Linked DNA regions of Homo sapiens: region 1 is linked to region 2. The links come from fine-mapping of genetic effects on gene expression. A gene starts in region 2. The other region holds a variant in brackets. All regions are shown on one strand. Distances are from middle to middle.

Region 1 (4,373 bases), 42 kb after region 2:
TAGCCATGCACTGGGACTCCCTAAACTTCCTGGCTCTAGTCTAGGTGAACTGTGCATGAGGGGCTGGGACATGAGCTCCCAATACTGGTCTTTCTTCCTCAGGCTCCTTACAAGAGCTCAACCCCACTACCAGGAGGAGTTTTGGGGTGCCAGGTAGCTCAGAGTGCAAGGTGAAAAGGTCAAGGGTCTCAGGTTGGGGATGGCAGGGGTGGGTCTGCCTGGGAGGAGGCTGCTGGGGTGAGGAGGAGGCTCTTCAGTGAAGCACCTTCCACACTACATAAAATGGCTTTAACAAATTCAGGAATCAGGCAAAGGCTGGCCCCTGGGGTCTGCAGGTTCCCTCTCAAACCTGGGCCCAAAGTGCTTTTCCTTTCCAGGACCTGGCCCAGAGGGAAGAGAGGAGTGAGGCAGAGCCTGAGACCCAGAAAAGAAAGCTCACTCCCGGGACCCCTGGGCCGGGGGACCTGCCCTCCCAAAACCTGCCTTCCCAAGATGCCCTTGAAGGGCTGGGCTCGGACCCGCACCTGGGCCAGGAGAGAGCAGAACTTCAAAGACCACCAAGGATGGACACCCCTGAGTCTGAGAGGAGGACCCTCAGGATCAGAAAGCGGAGACCCCTCAGCGTAAGAGAGCCGAGGCCTCCTGGGGCGAGATCAAAGATGCTCCTCAGAGTCAGAAGGTGAAGACACACGGGGGCCAGAGCCCAAGGGCTCCTCAGGGTCAGAGGGAGGAGTCGAAGAGAATTTAGTCCTAAGTGCCAGGGAAAGGCGAGTCCCCAGAGTCCAGGGAAGAAGATGCTGCGGTCTTGGGAAGGCAATATCTCACAAGCCTGGGAGGTGGCTCCCGGAGAGGCCACTGTGCAGCCCCCAGAGGAAGGCGACCCCCATAGCCATCCGAGGGACTCCTGCGGGTCCCTGAAAGCACAGACTCCAAAGCCTGTGGGCAGGGAGAGCCCAAACCTCCGGAGAAGGACTACCACGCTGACGCAGAGCATGATCAAAGGCGAGCCACAAAGGTCGGCACCGGCGGTGGCAAAGCTGGGGGCCGCCCGGGAGGGGGCGTGGGCTGCGCTTACCCGCCCGAAGCCCCCGGCCCGGCGGCGGCTCCCAGGTCGCGGAGCCGGAGCCGAGATGCCAGCGACCCTGCGCGCCGAGGTATCCGGGCAGCAGGGGCTCCTCGGGGCTCTCCGGGGCCCCCAGGCCTGGAGCGCGATCCGCACGGGCTGCAGGGCCCTGGAGTGGGCCCCGCACCGGGGGAGCAGGAGGTGGGCCAGGCTTGGCTTCCGGGTGCCCTCCGGGGTCGGGTGGGGCGGCCCTGAGCGTCCCAAGGCCTTGAAGGCCGCGTGGCCGGCGCCCCTCAGCACCGCCAAGGCGCCTGCGGGCTTAAGCGCGGCGCAGCAGGTGACGGCTCTGCAGCGGCTGCTGGAGCTGCACAGCGCGGCCAGGCGGCAGCGCCGCCGGCGGGACCGTGAGCAGCAGCGGCTCCGGGTGTGTCCCCACGCCGGGATCGGGGCCTGCCTGGAGCGGGCGGGGCACCGAGGGGCGGCCGGACGCTGACTGCCGCCTCTGCAGGTCCTGGAACGCCTCCACATCGCCAGGAACCGCCACTGCCGGGTTCACCCCGTGGGGCTCCCGCCCAGTCCGGCTCAACTCCCGCCACAGGCAAGACCCCTAGAAGGCGGTGGGGCCACAAGGAGCCTGCGCGGGGCAGGGGCCGAGCTTAGCGCGCCCGGGTCCCTTTGAAGTGAGCGCACTGCACTCTGGCAGTGACTCGGCGGGGCGCGAGGGGCAGGTGTGCCAGGTGCTGCCCCGCCCGCCCCACTGAGCCGCGGACGCTCAGCGCTC[C/T]GCACCGCCAGGAGGACGCGGCTGGGCGGCGGCGCGCCCTGCGGGAGCAGCTGGAGCAAATGCATCGGGAGAGGACGGAGCGGCTGCGGGCCCTCGGGGCCAGGTGAGGGGCGGGCAAGGAGGGGTGTGGCGGTGGCAGGAGGCCCCTTTCCCTGGCCTCCGAAATGACAAGCCGCTCTCTCCCCAGGAACACCCAGAACTTCCTGGAACTACTGTGTTCCCCTGGTGCTGAGGATCCCGTGCCTGCGAAGTAGTGCTCGCCCTTCCCAGCACCCTCTGGTCATTGCTGAGTCCTCAAAGGGATGATTAAAGTGATGAGGGTTACGGAAAAAGCAAGAGGGCAACTTGCAGGTCTGATAGTTTCAGAAAGGCCTGAATGCAACCTCAGGGACAGGGAGAGCAGAGGGGCACAGACACACACAGCAGCTTTGCCCCACCAGGAGGCCTGTTATTTCTTCTTCCCTCCCCTAAGCCCACACCTGGCCCACGGTCAGAGGGCCAGGTCTCGGGGATCAAGCAGTGCGAAGGCCCCGTTCTTGCGGAAGAATGACTCAATGCGGCACATCTTGCAGGAGACCAGTTCTTGCTTCACTGGGGGGCCTGGGAAAAGATGTCAGAGGCCAAGCATGGGTTCCTGAGGGAGGGACACGCAGAGCATGGGAGCCCTGTCTGTCTGCACAGCCCTAGGAATCCGTCAGTGGAGTAGCCACTTTGTGGGAAGAAATAGAAAGTGCTTTGGAGGAATGGGAGCTATGGGCAAATACTGGGAGCTGGCTGGATGCCAGGATACAGCAGCCATCTGCCATCATTACCCTAGCTTCAGGATCCTCTACCTGCAGGGAGGGGGGCCACCCTAGCCTGCTTGTCACAGGGACAGACTGTGGAGAGATGAGATTTCCTTCGGCCTCCTGCTCCCCGCTTCTAGGGCTCGCCTCCTGCTTTTGTTAGAAAGTTATTTCCCTGACTTCCCCTTTAGGGGCCTGGGGGAAAGGGATGTTTGGGGGCAAAATCTCAACTGAGTCAATCCCCAACCATCCACCTTTTCTGCAAGACACTCAAGCAGCTGGAGAAGGGTACAGGGCTGAGGAGTCTCACTTGACATTCATGAGCACAGACAGCAATGGGACGTGCAGCAACATCGCCCAGCAGCCCTGCCTGGCACATGCCTGTTCCACACCTTTCCTCTTCATCTCTAGTTACTCCACTGCCTCAGCTCAGCTCCCTCCCCGCTGATGGCCTTGACTCAACCTCACAGAAAAAAGACTCAGCCGAGATGGACAGGCTTCCTGCCAATGACATCCCCTACCCGCTCTGGCTCAGCCCTCCTGCCCCCACTCCCATCAGATTCCAGCAACTTGAGCTCCCTAGGAGATCTCATGGATTTAAATAGCACCTATAGGCCAGCCGGTGGCTCATGCCTGTAATCCCAGAACTTTGGGAGGCCGAGACAGGCAGATTACGAGGTCAGCAGTTCGAGACCAGCCTGGCCAATATGGTGAAACCCTGTCTCTACTAAAAAAACAAAAATTAGCTGGGCGTGGTGACACACGCCTGCAGTCCCAGCTACTCGGGAGGCTGAGGCAGAAGAATCTCTTGAACCTGGGAGGCAGAGGTTGCAGTGAGCCAAGATCGTGCCACTGCATTCCAGCCTGGGTGACAGAGTCAGACTGTTTCAAAAAGAAAAAGAAAAAAAAAAAGCACCTATATTCCAATGACCTCCGAATTTGCATCTTCAGCTCTGACTTCAATCCAGACTTATAGACACAGCCACCCTACAGACACTTCAAGCATAACATAGCCAAACACACATGGCTAAATAGGACCTGTTCATGCACGCTCCAGCCCTGACCTCTCCCAGTCTTCCCTGTCACTGCAGCTTTAGCTAAACAAACACCTGGGTGATTGATCTCTCTTCCCCTTATTCTCACATTCTATCCATGGGTGAGTTCCACCGAGTCTTCCCCCAAAACATCCTGAATTGATTTCAGCTCTATTGCTGATCCCTCAGGCCACTACCACAGGATAACCAAACAGATGCCCAACTCATGTGCCAGATTCTACCATTTCCCCTGAAAAAGCCACTGCCTACATACAGGTCAGGGTGACTTTTTAAAAGGTTCACCAGTGTCACTCTTGAAATCTGCTTAGAACCCTCCATCAGCTTCCCTGCACAACAAATAAAATCCAAACCCATCCTTATCATCTGGCTCTCAGCCTCGGGTCCTCAGAAAGGCCTTTCCTGACAATCCAATAAATAGCAGCACGTGGCCGCTGCCTCCCTGCCCACCGCCACTCCCTAGTTCTGTGGAACGTGTCGACACTTCTTGGCCATCTCCTTGCTCTGTTTATAGTCTGGACCCTTCACCAGGATGCCCACTCCCTAGCACATGGCTAGTGCTCTGTTTTTGAGGTGATTTCCAAGAGGTTGGGCTCACCCAGCTGCCAGCCATACGTGAAGCTGGTGGTGATGGGGAAGAGGTATCGCGTCTCTGGCATGTCCAGTTTTCGAGTGTTGAGGTAGCGGTACCG
Region 2 (4,373 bases):
GCACCAATTGGAGCTGGCAGCTCAGGGCCCTGGCTGGGAATGGGGCTGTGCTCCTAGAGTGGCCCTTGGAGGAATTTGGGGGGGAACCTCAAATGCAGGCAGTGAGTCCCACAGGGTGGCAGTGCTGGCCGAGGGTCCCCTGCCTGGGGAAGAACGGGAAGCCCTTCTGACTAGGTTTGTGCCCCCTCCACCCACCCCTCAGGTCCGAGGCTGTCCGGAGGCCACAGCCTTCACGAAACATCCACGGTTCTGGTGGAGACTGTGACCAAGTCCTCCTCAAGCCGGGGCTCCAGCTACAACTCCATCCCCAAGTTCTCCTCAGATGCCAGCAAGGTGGTGACTCGGGGCCCTGGGCTGTCCCAGGCCTTCGTGGGCCAGAAGAACTCCTTCACCGTGGACTGCAGCAAAGCAGGCAGGTGGCGGGGGGAGGGCGTCTCCCGGGGTGTGAGCAAGAAGCCGTCAGGGAGCAGGGTGTGGGTCACAGTAGGGGACTCCCTGGTGTGAGCCTGTCCCTCTGCCTCCCTCTCCAGGCACCAACATGATGATGGTGGGCGTGCACGGCCCCAAGACCCCCTGTGAGGAGGTGTACGTGAAGCACATGGGGAACCGGGTGTACAATGTCACCTACACTGTCAAGGAGAAAGGGACTACATCCTTATCGTCAAGTGGGGTGACGAAAGTGTCCCTGGAAGCCCCTTCAAAGTCAAGGTCCCTTGAGTCCCAAAAGTGCCTCCCCAGCCTCAGCCCCCACCTCCAGCCAAACACACATTACATACACACACACACACACACAAATGTGCCACACCCAGACACACACACACAGAATCAGACACTACAAACACCTGCCTTGGGGGTGAAGTGAAGGCCCAGCCTCCCCACCCCACCGCACCCCAGGGGTTGGAGGACCTTTTCTGTGTCAGGACAGTGTCCCTCCCTGGGAATGTGATATGAGGGCCGACTGGGGCCAGGCTCAGTGGCAGAGGCTAAGACACAAGGGACTGGAAGGGGACTGTGGGGCGAGGGAAGCCCTGTGCATCCTCCCAGTGTGGTTTAGAGCTGCTCACCCTGATTCTCTCTGATTCTTTCTGTAAAATGGGGATGGAGGTGCCCCCATTCTTCATAAGGGAAGTAAAAATTGCTCATACCTCTGTGCCAAGCACCATGCATTACTAATCCTTACAAACACTCCATGAGGTGGGTGCTGTTAGAGCTCCAGTCACAGTTCAGAAAAATCAGCCACCAAAAGTGAAGTGACCAGCCAGAGGCCCCAGAGCAGAAAGCAAGAGCTCCAGGATGCGCCCTGGCAACCCTGCCAGAATCTGTGCTCTGAACCGTCCCACTACCCAGCCCCTCAGAGGACTTGCTTTCCAGAGGCACCCGGTCAATGAAAGCCACCTTCCTTAAACCTGCCAGGAATAGTGCTGCCGCTTCCTTGTTCCTCTTCTGGCTGGCTGGCCCTGGCTTTCCTCTGTGACCTCAGCTCCAGGCACTGAGGCCAGGTCTTAGCGTGGCATTGCAGCCTCCCTGCCCCCTGTGGCAAAGGCTCAGGTCCACTATGGGCCCAGACTCTGGGGCAGAGAAGCTGCCGTCTCCTTACTGAAGCTTTAAGCTTGGTGGAGAGTGGGCTGGGGAGACCTCAGTCCCTGCCTGGTCTAGGGGGAGGGGTGGCTTCCGACTTCTGGTCTTTATGACAGGGAGGGAGAGCTTTGGAAGGGTTCACAGCTCCGCCCTCAATGTTCCTTTTTGCCTGTGAGCTTCGCCTGTGAGACCCAACCCTCTGCTTCCCAGCTTCAAGGAGGAGTTTCCCAGCCTGTGGGCCCACAGGGACGGCTGTCCTCACTTCCTCCCTTTGGCCCCCTCTGCCTGCTGAGCCCAGGGCCCAGCCCTGCCCCCTACCCAGGCTCACCCCACAGCCAGGCCTGAGCTCAGGAGTGGGAAATGGGGCTGAGACCAGCCAGTGAAGGGCGGCCTTGGCATTTGGGGCCAAGCCTGGGACTGCTGGGGTGGGTAGGGGTGTTGAGTGGAGTTCAGGAAAGAAACTTATAGGGGAGAGAGGAAAACACTGGTCGTGTCCATGATTTCAGAGATCAGGAGTTCTTATTATTATTATTTGTTATTTACTGAGCATTTACCATCTCTCTACCGACTCTAAATTCTTTACTTATATAATCTCACTTAATGCTCACTGCAAGTCTATAAAGTAGATGTGGTGATCCCCAGTTTACAGATAGGGAAATTGAGGCACAGAGAAGTTAGTGGTCTAAGGCCACATGGAATTGGCTGAGCAGGGATCTAAACCCAGCTCAGTCTGCTTCTTCTGTAAACTTGTGAGAGAGAGGAAAAATCGATCTGGAAACCCTAGGGCGATGGAGTAACCTAAAAGGGCAGGGAGACTCTCTAGGATCCCGAGAGGGGTGGACTTGGGTTTATTTTCTTTTCAGGGTCTCCTCCTGGATCTTAAGCGGAGACAAGGCCTACACCCCCGTTGGGCTTCCTGCGAGCTGGAGCTGCTCTCTGGGGTCAGGACCGGCCGGGCCCGGGGCGGGTGGAGGTGTGCATGGGAAAGGCGCGCGCGGTGGGGGGTTTGAGCCCTCCCTGAACAAAGCCTGGGTGGGAGCGGCCTGTGTGTCCCCACCCCGCCTTCCCCAGCGCCTGCTGAGCCGCGACGACAGACGGCGAGCCGAGCGAGGCGGAGCTAGCATGGCCGGGGTCGGGGCCGCTGCGCTGTCCCTTCTCCTGCACCTCGGGGCCCTGGCGCTGGCCGCGGGCGCGGAAGGTGAGTCCAGGTGCGGGAGGCTTGGGGTCCGGCCAGGTGCGCCCCCTCCCTCCTATCAGCCCGGCCTGAGGGGGCCGAGAGGGGCTGGGGGCTCTGCTCTTAGCCCTGCCTGAGGTTCGCGCGCCTCCCTGGCCAGCTCCGTCCTCCCCGTCGGGGGAGCGAGCAGGGTGGGGAAGACCACGGCCAAAGCAGGGGGTTCAGGAGAGGGGGGCGGTTCCTGCAGCCGGCGGCGGGAGAGAGTGCGGCTGCCCTGGCATCTGGGAGTCTGAAGTTAATTATTTGTCTTGACGAAGGAGGGGGAGAAAAGGGGCCCGCTGTGGAAGCTGACTTTGCATCTGTGTCTGGCCCTCCCCGGAGCAGGACAGGCGGGAATGGAGGGCTCGGTGCCGGCACGGGGCCAGGGGAGGCTAAGAGGGGAACCCGGGACAATTCCTTGGGGACCAGCCAAGTTTGTGCCACTCGGAGCTCTTTCTGCAGGTCTCTCCAGGCGAGGCTGGCCCTAGCTTCACCTAGGGGTCCCAGAGGATTCAGCTTCTCCCGGGCTCCCATATCCTGCCTGCCTACTTAAGCAGAACTGGAGGAGTGGCCTGGGAGGAGGGGCCCTGGGCAGCAGGATGAGGCCCCACGGGAGTCTAGATTGGGTAGAAGGTTTCAGATGCTGAGACGCCCATCGTGGCCGCCCTCTGTGTGCTTGGGAAGGACTGAGACCGGGTGCCATTCCGGGTGACAGGATCCCCAGTAGAGGGACGGAGATGGGAAAGGGCACCTGGGGTTTGAGGGCCAGTATTCGCCCAGGGTGCGGGAACTGAGTTAGAATCCCTGATATAAGCCAGAAGTAGCGGGGCTGGAAAGGTGGGCGGTGCTTGTGATCCATCCCAGCGGGACTTGCTCCTGGGAGACTTCGGCTGTGTGATTCAGAAAGGTCGAGTGGAGAGAAGGGGCACAGATGGAGGCAGGGACGCTTTGTCTTCAGCCTTCTGAATGGAGATGGTGGAGAGAGGAGAAGGGGGGGATGTATTAGGGGACAACTCAGGCAACAAAATAGGGGAGCTGAGCCCCAGCTTTCTGGCTTAAGTAACTGGGTATGTGTGATGGCATTAACCAAGCCAGGGAACTTGGGACAAAGCAAGTTCAATTTTAGCCTAGAATCCCCTCTGCCTTTGATGGTGACAGTGGGTGACATTGTTCCCCTGTCTCACAGGCCTAGTGTCTGTGAGAAACCCTTTTAAGCCACTCCAGGCCTGGCCTCACTAATGAGCTGCCATGGTGGGAAAGACCCATCCCTCTCCCTCCTCCTCTCTCTGTTCCTATTGCCTCCGCTCCAGACCCTCAACTTCCCTGCCCATCCCTGCCTGGAGGAGGGACCTATGTCTGCCTCTTCCCCTCCTGCCTTTACTTTCTGGGCTGCAGGAGAAGGATCAAAGTGAAAAGGTGAAAGTGGCCGCCCCTAACCCCAGGCCAGAGCTCAGAGGTGCCCCGTCCCTCTTTCCTGGACATAGTGTCTTCTAGAAGCAGGGACAGGCTGTCTTCACTGGATCTGGTGTGTTCAAAGTTAGCAGGGGCCTTGCCAGCACATTTCTCACACCCTTCAGAAAAT

What was found. PIP is the estimated chance that this variant, and not a neighbour inherited with it, causes the effect.
Region 1: its variant is the best candidate, but not a certain one, in a credible set for the expression of KCP in whole blood (TOPMed, PIP 0.56).

Annotation. Positions count from the first base shown.
Region 1 is chr7:128,866,737-128,871,109 of GRCh38, reverse strand. SPMIP1 (sperm microtubule inner protein 1) reads right to left here. Exons shown (of 2, transcript NM_001195150.3): 1 at 4,280-4,373; 2 at 1-2,444. The coding sequence ends at 2,335. Among named protein-coding and RNA genes, the nearest start is that of SPMIP1, 2.6 kb to the right of the region's middle. RefSeq lists silencers at 973-1,092, 1,153-1,672, 1,803-1,912. The variant C/T (reference allele first, on the strand shown) is at 1,845.
Region 2 is chr7:128,909,004-128,913,376 of GRCh38, reverse strand. It overlaps KCP (kielin cysteine rich BMP regulator), which reads left to right and starts at 2,668. Exons shown (of 40, transcript NM_001366122.1): 1 at 2,668-2,776. The coding sequence starts at 2,701. It also overlaps the pseudogene LOC392787.